Homo sapiens: one gene and its partners. The protein of the gene in region 1 interacts with the protein of each later gene in a biochemical or structural test. Each region holds a gene or a part of one and is shown on either strand. Other genes may lie near its edges.

Region 1 (3,748 bases):
CCTCTTCCCACCGGCTTCTCAGGGAACTCAAAGGCTGATGTGGAGACACAGAAACTGGGCAGTGTGACACCATATACAGCCACACCCCACTACACAGACAGTCTCAAGTGAAAGAGGGTGCCGCACACCCTTGAGTGCAAATATACTTGCACGCACACTCAGACTCCCTGTGTTCAGGGTCTGCAGACACCCGCCTTCCTTTCCTGCAACCTCCCCCTACTCACTTGCAGCCTGCCCTCGTTTTTTGTCACCCCACCCTGGAGTTGGAGACACTAAGAGCAGGGCTGGGTGCAAACACCTGGCAAAAAAATCACAGGATGGTCACGCAAACAGGAAATCACTCAAAAGATTCCAACGGGAGGCTCTGGGGGGGCTCCTTCCTTCCGCGGTTTCCTCCTTCATCGCCCAGGCCTCCTCCCTCTGTCCCCTGACAAAAAGTCACCGAGCCCAGTTCAAATCGATTGTTTTATTGACTGCATACAGACGCGTTTAGAAAAGGGCACGGGCTCCGGGGGGCTACTCCGTCCCAGGCCCGCGCTTGTGCTGCGCTTCGCGGAGAGGGCTGATCCCGAGGACTGAAACTCCCCCCACCCCAACCCCGACGCTTTCTTTCAAAATGGAAAAAAGAACCCCGCCCCGAGTCGCCGCGCCGCGCCCCTCCCCTTCCCTCCCTCCCCGCCCATCCGCCCCCCCGCCCGCCCCCCTACACTACACGGTCACACTTCACAGGACACAGACTTTTCTCCTACAGGGCACGCTTGTCAGGGACTACACGCCGGGCAAACACGATTCCCGCCGAAGCAGGGGCGGGTGGGGCGGGGCGACGCGAGGACCGAGACGCGAGGACGGAGGGGCTCGGCTCCATCCGGATCCCGTCGCACAGTCGCACAGTCACGAGCAGGCTTTGTGCGAACTAGGGCGCGAGCCCTCCAGAGAGCCGCGGCCCGGGAGGCCACAGTCAGCTTCCTCCGCCTCCGGCGCTTTCCAGCTAGGGTCTGGGTCGGGTGGAGCCGCGGGAGCGGCGCTGTTGGGCGCACAGACCTCCGGAAAGCCCAACACACGGACAACGAAATTGGCCCGCGACCAAGTCCACAGGCTCAGCCGCCAAGGGGCGCGCGGTCCTGCGGCGCTTTAAGTTAGGAGAGAGACGACAGAAAACGCATTCCCTCCCTACCCCCCGACACACACACTCGATTTTCCCAGAGGCTGGGAAGGGGGTGTTAGCACCAGACCCGAAATGTCGCTGTCTTTGAAAACAACGAAAACAGGAAAATCTGAGCGCGGAGCTGAAAGGCGCCCCAGGCACCGGGCTGGACTCCAACTGGCCAGAAGTGGGGTGGGGGTGGGAGGACAGAAGGATTTGGTTCCCTGCCGGCAGGAGGCTTTGGAACTAAAAACTAGGGGTTGCCACGAATCCCGGCTTCTGGGAGTAGGGATTGAAAGGGAGGAGGGGCCGGGCGCGGTGCCTCACGCCTGTAATCCCAGCACTTTGAGAGGCCGAGGCAGATGGATCACCTGAGGTCAAGAGATCCAGACCATCCTGGCCAACATGGTGAAACCCCGTCTCTACTAAAAATAGAAGAAATTAGCTGGTCGTGGTGGCGCGCGCCTGTAGTCCCAGCTACTAGGCAGGCTGAGGCAGGAGAATCGCTTGAACCCGGGAGGCGGAAGATGCAGTGAGCCGAGATCGCGCCACTGCACTCCAGCCTGGCGACAGACCAAGACTCCGTCAAAAAATAAATAAATAAATAAATAAAATTAAAAAATAAAAAAAAAGGAAAGAAAGAAAGGGAGGAGGAGGGGTCGAGGTGGGACCCCACAGCACTCCACTGGCCTTGGCTGGCCCCCGAAACCACCGCGTTACCGCGAGGTTTCCAAAGTCTTCGCTCGTTTCCTCTGGCTCCAGAGCCCACGGTGGGGCGGGCTGCGGGGTGGATTTCGCAGATAATCGCGACGGGAATGGAGGGACATAGATATCGCCCACCGTCTGCGGGTGGAGTCTTGCATGGGGTAAGATAAACACTGTGCTTGGCGGGGAAGGGGATTCAGCCCGCAGGGAGAATGGCAGCCGTGGGTAGCAGGGACTGGTGAAATCGGCCCACTCCCTAATAGAAGTCCCTGGTAGTCAAGGTTGGGGAGTAGTAAGGGGGAGGAGTAGGTGAAGGTTGGGGACGGGGGACATAAGTCCTGCCAGCCCTAGACTGCTGCTCCCAGGCACCCTAGGTGGAGGTCGGGAATGGGCGGGCCGGACGGGCGGAGGTTCAGCCTGCCGTCTGCCTGTAGTTGCCATTAATCTCCTGGGCGATGTTGACCGCCTCGGCGCCCAGGGGCAGCCGATCGCTGTACTCAGAGCCCGCCTCGAACTCCTCTTGGTTGGCCTTGGACTGGGACTCCACCAGTGAGCAGGCCGCCAGGCTCTCCTCTCTCTGCAGGTCCCCACTTGGGTCTCCCTGCTCCGCGTCTTCATCAAGGCCCTCCCCCTGCACGTCCTCTGGCTCCTCGCCGCCCGCCTCGCCGCCTGCCGGGTAGCTTTTCTCGGACTCGAGGTACGAAGCACGCGGGTCGAAGTCTGCGGCGATGCGCTTCTCCATAGGGTCAGGGGCCTGAGGCCGCAGGATCAGACGGTAGGGCTTGCCCGGGTGTTTAGCCAGCAGATGGCAGCAGGCGGCGCCCAGAAGGGGCACTGTGGCCAGCACCAGGAGGAATACGCTCACTGCCACTATGACCAGCAGCGATGGGAGCTCCTTCTTGGTGGAAAACACCACTTGCACGTGGCAGGCTTCGCCCGCCAGCGCCAGGCACACGGAGTAGTTGGTACCCGGCCGCAGGCCGCGGAACCAGTAGGCGTTGACGCCTTCCTCTACGCGGGACCACTGCACTGCCGCGCCGCCCCCCGCTGGACACAGATAGAGTAGGCGCAGGGGTCGCCGCCCGGGTCGCGGGGCTCCGCCAGCCCCGCCGGGCCCAGGGCCCCAGCGCGCAGCCAGCGGAGTCAGCTGCACCCGCGCCTCGCGCTCCGCCACATCCAGCGCGATGACGCCCAGCTCGAAGACGTGCGGCTTGAGCTCTGCGCTCTGGTTGAACGCGTGGTTAGAAACGTACCGAGAGGGGTCCCCGTTGCCACAGCGCTGCTCCTCCGCCGGGTCCGCGAGGATCTGGTCTTCGGCCTCCTCTCCCTCACTTGTGTCCTCCTCCGGCTCCGTCTCGGTCTCCCCGAGAATGCTGACCTTGGCCAGGCCTTGGCCTTTGATTTTGCCCTCGGGTTTGGAAGGCAGGACGCTGTTGCCCCGGCCCTTGGCTGTGGACTTGCGCTCAGAGGTCGGGGCCTGTCCGTCGGGTTCTCCCCCGGCGCCAGGCGCGTGTTTTGGGGGCCCGGTTGCTGCCACCGCCACGCGTATTGACGTAGAGTTGGCGCCCAGCTCATTGTGTGCACGGCAAGTGTAGACGCCCGCCTCCTTGGCACTCAGGAGGGGCACCAACAGGGAGCCATTTGCGAGGGCCAGGAAGCGCGGTGTGGCTGGGGGCGCCGGCCAAGCGGGTGCTGGAGTCGGCGTTTGGGCTTGGGTCTGCGTCAGCAAATCCCCATCTCCTTCTCCCTCTCCTTCCTCCGCCCCAACCCCGTCGTCCTCCCCGCTCAGAACCGGTGGCTCTAAGACTACGGTGCCACCGGGGATCTGAAGTTGCCATTGCAGGCGAGGCGTAGGGTGGCCGTCGGCGATGCAGTGTAACACGAACGCCAGTCCTGCGC
Region 2 (3,648 bases), on another chromosome or scaffold:
ACTCAAATAAGGACACTGAGGCACAGAAAGTGAAGGAGACTTGCTCAGGGTCACACAGCGAGCCGGGGATTAATATGCAAATGGATCTCATGTTTCCAGAATCCCAGGCCAGTCTCCTTCTGCTGCATAGTACAGAAGGTGATGCCATCCCAATATATTAGACATGGAATGGCAGGCTTACAGGCGGAAAGTTCACTTCCAACAAGGACTCCAAAATGTAATGCACAATGTGAGCGGTGTGAAAGTGTGCCTTAAAAGTTGGGATGAGTCTTGATAAGAGTCCCTGAAGCCTGTGGATTGGCAACATCTGCCTTTACATAGTTTTGAGATGACCCTGAGTAGCAGCACCGTGGAGTAGAGAGGGGACCAAGGAGGGCCAGGTGCCCTGAGCTCTGCTCCTCTTTCAGAGGCCTTCAGGCCTTGGGCAAGTAGCTTCTCCTCTCAGAGCCTGGTTTCTTCATCTGCTAAAGGCAGGGACATTAACACCTGTCCTGCCCCATCTCCCAGAGTTGGGATCAAGCTTTATGAACTTAAAGGACTGTGCATAGTAAGGGCTCTCAATTCTTATTTTAAAATTGTAATCACCTAAGGATCTATTTTTTTAAGATAAGATAGCAAATATTCTCCTTTCTTTTTTCATTAAAAAAGAAAAAAAAGAGAGCCTTACTCTTGGGTGAGGTCAAAATGTTTGTAGGTAAAATATATTCTACTACAATCTAATTCCACAGTCTGGAGATAACACCTGACCCCTTTTTTTACAATTTGATCGTCAGAAGCCTGGTATCCACCGCTTCTAACCACCTGTTTAGAGAATGCTAGGCTAGGCCAAGCACAGTGGCTGATGCCTATAATCCCAGCACTTTGGGAGGCCAAGGCAGGAGGATCATTTGAGCATAGGAATTTGAGACCAGCCTGGGCGGCAACATAGGGAGACCCTGTCTCTACAAAAAAAAAAAAAAAAAAAAAAAAAATAGCTGGGTGTGGTGGGGCATGCCTGTGGTCCCAGCTACTCAGGAGGCTGAGGTGGAACGATCACTCGAGCCCAGAAAGTGGAGGTTGCAGTGAGCCATGATCACGCCACTGCACTCCAGCCTGGGTGATAGAGCGAGACCCTGTCTCAAAATAAAATTTTAAAAAAGAGAATGCTAGGCTAACAAATGGATGCTCTGGTCTCCAAAGACCCAGCCAAGGCGCTCCTGAGTCTGGTAAAGCATCCCACCTAAAACTAAATCTCCTTCAAAGGGAAAAAGTTAGGAATAGAAGAGCTACAGCCAGCTGTCCACACGTTGGGGTAAAGCAATGGAATTTGTTTCTGAGGGAATACCATTTTAGAAAGAACACTAAGACCACACTTCCTGTTATTTTCCCAAAAGGCCATCTTAATCTAGGATGGCAGGGCTAAAAGGGACATTGATAACATCCAGTTAAAATGCCATACTCACAGATGAAGGGACCAGGGCCCAGAGAGGGGAAGGGATCTGTTCAGGTCACACAGCAAGTTACAGTCAGGCAGAGGACAGCTGGGACCCTCATCCCTCCTTCTACAACACACACTAAGTCACAGAGCACCACTAATAGGTCATAGACAAATGAGGTAAAGAGTCACAGCTGACACGAGCCCTTTCGAAATTGCAAACATGCCGTTCTGTGATCTCCCTGGAAGAGAATAATTACAAAAAGACTTCTCATGGAACAATTCATTTCAAAAGTATAAAAAAGCCACATGCAAATCCGTTTCTCACTGTTTGCCCTGCTAAAAACTACATCTGCATACAGATCTAGTTTGCATCTAATTTTTAAAAACACACAAAAGGGGTCATCTACACACACAGGTTTTCCAACTCTTCATGAAGCACAAAGATCCGTTATTTGACTTTTCCATCATCCCATGATCAATGTTTCTAAGACCCTAGGAAGAAAAGGAGAGAAAGAATTAGAGAACGTAAGCCTGCTCCGTTACAATCAACTATGTGTTACATGGAAGGTGGGGGAAATGATCCTTCACTTCGAATCTCTCCCCAGCAGGAAATGGTGCCAGTGGAGAGTGAAGGGCCCTGTGGAGTCCCAAGAAGTACTTTTAAGACCAAAAGGTGGACGTTTCAAAGCAGCAGACTCCAGCTTAATAAGATCTTTTCAACCATTGGAAAATCCACAGATGGCTCTCAGTGGTAGTGAGCTCTGTATCCCTGGAGGTATGTAAGCCAGAGCTGGCAATACTGTGTGTCACAGAAGGAACTCAAGACCTAGGCAGCAGTGATGCTCTTAAAATTCCACAATTTTTCATGGTATCCTTTTGATGTATTCACAACCCAGAATCATTTCTGCCTCAAAATATACGTGTATTTGAAAATTATAGATATATATATTTAAAACTGGAAACATATCTATATAAAACAAGTCACATATCATCAGGAAGACAATTTTAAGACCCAATCTCCTAACTCTTTGTTGAATTCCTATTTCACAGTTTTACATTTTCATATTTTTCTCCCCATTTCTAGGGCCTCTAACTACTCACGTACACCCATCCTTCAATCCTCATGCCACCTCCTCGATGATTCTTCCTTCATTTTCCCCAGTTCTAAGCTGCTTTTCATGCCTTAATATCTCCTCCCATTCCCTTACATCGCACTCCTTGTATTATAATTATGTCCACTTTTTGTTTTTCTGTGATCCCCTACAGACCAGAAGTAAGGCCTTGCACACAGAAGGTGTGCAACAGTAGTGGCTGAAAGAATAATATAACTAAAACCATGGCAAAATCCCCCTGCTTTTGAGAAACCCTATCAGACTTGTTTCTAATTTTTCCTGTTCTATTAAGCACCTGTTGATCAGCCTTGGTAATGGTGCCTGTTCACCACTGCTCCCCCATTCCTGTAAGAGGATCGTGCAGGCCAGGCACGGTGGCTCACGCCTGTAATCCCAGTACTTTGGGATGCCAAGGCGGGCGGATCATGAAGTCGGGAGATCAAGACCATCCTGGCTAACACGGTGAAACCCCGTCTCTACTAAAAATACAAAAAAATTAGCCAGGTGTGGTGGCGGGTGCCTGTAGTCCCAGCTACTCGGGAGGCTGAGGCAGGAGAGTGGCGTGAACCCAGGAGGCAGAGCTTGCAGTGAGCCGAGATCGCACCACTGCACTCCAGCCTGGGTGACAGAGTGAGACTCTGTCTCAAAAAAAAAAAAAAAAAATGATTGGTCTGTAAATGGGCGGGGCACACATCACATCCGAGCAGAAACTTTAAATGCAATGGTGTGTGCAGCCTGGCCACAGAACGGACATGTTCCACACTGGAGCTGTTCCTCCAGCTGGGTCCTGAATGAGGGGACACATGGGGCAGGGCCACAGCCAGCTCACAGCTATAACATGGAACATGAGCAAGTGATCAACGTCTGTGGCTGTGAACCAGCAAGATTTTGGGATTTTTATGAGCAAAAGCTGGCTTATAAAGTGATCCCTTTCCCGAATTCCCAGTTCACCTGTAGGCAAGGAACAGATGCAACCCCAGCTGTCACCTGTGTGACTACAGACTAGGAGGCCTTGACCAGAGGGGATGCAGAGATTCTCTCTGCCCCTACCCACAAGGAGATGTGTTGCAAAGCAGCACACAGTGCTGAGGACAGGAAGGCAAGGCCTGAGCCCCAGGA
Region 3 (3,648 bases), on another chromosome or scaffold:
CATACCACGCTGAACGCGTCTGATCTCGTCTGATCTCGGAAAATAAGATCCCTGTTTGAAATCAGTACTACATACCATTCATTCAAATAAAGTTGAGATAGATTAAATGGTTAAAAATAAAACTTGTATTATTGAAAAACTAGGGGGCAGGTTAACTAGCAGAACTGTAGAGGAAATAGAAATCTCTTAAATGATGATCTAAATCACGAAACAAACAGATATTCTAAAATACAGAAAATGTAATTCATAGCCCATAGAAAATATTTAAATAAAAAAATTAGAAAGGACTGGAATGAATGAATATGCGCCAGCTCTGACACATGATTACTATTTACACTCTATAAAAGAATAACTCAAGGCCGGGCGTGGTGGCTCACATCTGTAATCCCAGCACTTTGGGAGGTCAAGGCAGGTGGATCACGAGGTCAGGAGATCAAGACCATCCTGGCTAAGATGGTGAAACCCCATCTCTACTAAACATACAAAAAAAAAAAAATTAGCCAGGCATGGTGGCACACGCCTGTAGTCCCAGCTACTCAGGAGGCTGAGGCAAGAGAATCGCTTTAACCCGGGAGGTGGAGGTTGCAGTGAGCTGAGATGGTACCACTGCACTCCAGCCTGGGTGACTCCGCTCGAAAAAATAAATAAATAAAAGAATAACCCAAATTGGAAAAAATGTAGAATCATAGAAGAAAAATGATATGAACAGAGTTACCAGTAAGAGGGAATTCATAATTAATAAAAAATACTTGTGAGATGTTCCCCTTACTAATCAGACCTGAGCGATTTGTTAGTACTCACATTTTCTATAGTAATAACAGCTAATAGAATGATAGCCTGCCCTGCTGGTGATTCAAGAGTGAAGCTGGTCCTCACGGTCAGCGCCATTCTGAATTGGTATTATAAGTCTTCTGGAAGCAGAATGGCAACGGCAGCCCGGGTCACAGGGGGAAACGTGCTCCTCATCTGGGGGATTCCACCCTCAGCTGCCTACCCAAGGACACAAGTGGTCACAAGGAAAAACACTGAGGACAAAGATATTCATGAAAATACAGTCTTCACAGGAAACAGTTAGAAATAAACTTAAATGCTAAACATTGGGGGAAATTATTCAATACACGATAGAACACCCACATTATGAGAAAACATTATGCTGTCTACAAAATCAGTAAAGGCTCTGCAGAAGTTAGAAAATGTATCCAGTTTTAGAGGAATAAGCAGTCCACAAAATATGATGTATCCCAGGGGTCCCCACCACCTGGCCACGGACTGGTACCGGTTGATGGCCTGTTAGGAACTAGACCTCAGACCAGGAGGTGAGCAGAGGGCCAGTGAGCATGACTGCCTGAGCTCCACCTCCTGTCAGATCAGCGGCGGCATTAGATTCTCATAGGAGTGTGAACCCTAGTGTGAACTGTGCATGCGAGGGATCTAGGTTGCACTCCCTATGAGAATCCAATGCCTGATGATCAGAGGTGGAACGGTTTCATCCCAAAACCATTCCCCATCTGTCTGTGGAAAAATTACATTCCCTGAAACTGGTCCTTGGTGGCAAAAAAGTTGGGGACCACTAAACTATCCCACATTGCAAACCAAAGAAATATGTAATCATGTGGGAAGCAATGTGCTGAAGCGGAGGAACATGGTTTCTTATGAAAATTTTAGGATAGCTTAATAACTATATTTTCTATCCAATAAAACAGAACTTAAAAGAAATGAATATAGAGCAAAAATAGAAAGTATCTAGAACAAACGACTTCAAATATAGATGACTGTGAGGGGTGTGATCGGGAGAGTGACACAGGCAGGCAGAGGAGAAAGAGGGCAGGCGCCAGTCTCAGGACTTAGAGGGCTGGTGCTCACTGTCCCAAAACAGGGGTCCTTGGCTCTCACCATCTCTCATAGGAAGTGAGGGGACAGGATGGAAAGCGGACCCCTTTGACGACCCTTCCAGCCATGGAGACTTTTTGAGGTCCTGAAGTCCCACTTGCTGGGTTTGGGTGAGTTTTCTGCTGAAGCCAGTCTGGCCTCTTTACTTTCAGGAAAACAGGGCCGATGCTGTGACCCTTGATGGTGGTTTCATATACGAGGCAGGCCTGGCCCCCTACAAACTGCGACCTGTAGCGGCGGAAGTCTACGGGACCGAAAGACGTGAGTTCTGCCTGGGGACCCAGAGGCCACGGTGGCCTCAGCCTGTGCCCTGAGCTGTGTGGATTAAGACTGGGGGAACATGTGGAGGTGGAGTCTGGGTCACATCACACATGTAGGGAATGGAGTCGCTGGGCTCTGGGCCAGATGAAGGCCGTTCCTCCTGACGCTGACCCACGAGAGGAGGACACACGTGAGCTGTGAGGAAACTGCAGCACAGCATTCCCCCTTCCCACCGGAGACTTTTCAGGATGGGTTGTTTTTGTCCCTCTTGTCCAGGCTAAGAACTTTCAATTCTGTCTGCCCCTTTGCAGAGCCACGAACTCACTATTATGCCGTGGCTGTGGTGAAGAAGGGCGGCAGCTTTCAGCTGAACGAACTGCAAGGTCTGAAGTCCTGCCACACAGGCCTTCGCAGGACCGCTGGATGGAATGTCCCTATAGGGACACTTCGTCCATTCTTGAATTGGACGGGTCCACCTGAGCCCATTGAGGCAGGTAAGATGGCTGGGGGATAGTGAGTGGCCTCAGGCAGGGGGCTCTATTCCAGTTGTAAGCACAGGCCACACAGATCATGCAGGTGAAAGTGTGGGATGAATCAAGGTGGGGGTGAGGCTGGCCAGCTTGTAACATCCTGCTGGCAGGATCCGTTACCCTAGCAGCCCTTGGGAGGCACAGCTGAGTCTGCTCTCGGCAGAGGTGCATGTCTCGAGCTCCCAGCCCCATGACAGAGTCTCTCCTGCAGGGGTGGAGGAAGGGGCCTTGCCCACGGAGACCTCAGGATGGGAGGTGTAACCTGCTGTGACCAGGGCTGGCTCACACTCTGTGGTCCACTTCTCTGTGTTTAACAGCTGTGGCCAGGTTCTTCTCAGCCAGCTGTGTTCCCGGTGCAGATAAAGGACAGTTCCCCAACCTGTGTCGCCTGTGTGCGGGGACAGGGGAAAACAAATGTGCCTTCTCCTCCCAGGAACCGTACTTCAGCTACTCTGGTGCCTTCAAGTGAGTGACCCTGTCCCCTTCTCGTCAGTGGCCAAGTGTCCCTTGGCCTCAGGCCGGGAGGCCTTTTCTCTGGCCCCACATAGAGCCCAGCCTGCTCTTGGGGACGAGAGGAGGTCTGTTCTCCTACTGCTGTGTGTCCAAAGAGAGTGCAGGCCTGCCCAGTGTGTGTTCCCCTCCAGCCTTCCGGGCCCAACTGTGCCCCCAACTTCTCACCAGCCCCACGGGCAGTCACTGTGGCTGTGGGCCCTCCTGTTACCTCAGAGAGCCCTGAATCCAACTTGGCTGCCCTGTTGTCCTGGGTTCCTCATACTAATTTCTGCCGCCTGCCTAACCACAGCAGGACTGAAGGCATCTTGTCATGAGATGTCCAGTCCTGGCTCCTGGTTGGGCAGGACCGCTGCAGTGTCCAGGCTGATGTCCTTCTGCCCACCTGGGCCTCTCCCCGTGGCTGAAGGACAGTGAGCAATGCCTGATTCGCCCCCATCCTCTCTGCCCCCACGCG

What was found.
Region 2: the proteins of ISLR2 (region 1) and IGFBPL1 interact in a biophysical measurement, tested with the Homo sapiens proteins (one large-scale study listed by IntAct).
Region 3: the proteins of ISLR2 (region 1) and LTF interact in a biophysical measurement, tested with the Homo sapiens proteins (one large-scale study listed by IntAct).

Annotation. Positions count from the first base shown.
Region 1 is NC_000015.10:74,133,506-74,137,253, reverse strand, and holds the end of ISLR2 (immunoglobulin superfamily containing leucine-rich repeat protein 2 precursor), read right to left. Parts: coding exon 2,262-3,748; 3' UTR 452-2,261; downstream 1-451. UniProt on the Homo sapiens protein: Required for axon extension during neural development.
Region 2 is NC_000009.12:38,407,309-38,410,956, forward strand, and holds part of IGFBPL1 (insulin-like growth factor-binding protein-like 1 precursor), read right to left. Parts: intron 1,910-3,648; 3' UTR 1-1,909. UniProt on the Homo sapiens protein: IGF-binding proteins prolong the half-life of IGFs and have been shown to either inhibit or stimulate the growth promoting effects of the IGFs in cell culture. They alter the interaction of IGFs with their cell surface receptors.
Region 3 is NC_000003.12:46,454,793-46,458,440, reverse strand, and holds part of LTF (lactotransferrin isoform 1 preproprotein), read left to right. Parts: intron 1-2,042; coding exon 2,043-2,151; intron 2,152-2,462; coding exon 2,463-2,645; intron 2,646-2,998; coding exon 2,999-3,146; intron 3,147-3,648. UniProt on the Homo sapiens protein: Transferrins are iron binding transport proteins which can bind two Fe(3+) ions in association with the binding of an anion, usually bicarbonate. Lactoferricin binds to the bacterial surface and is crucial for the bactericidal functions.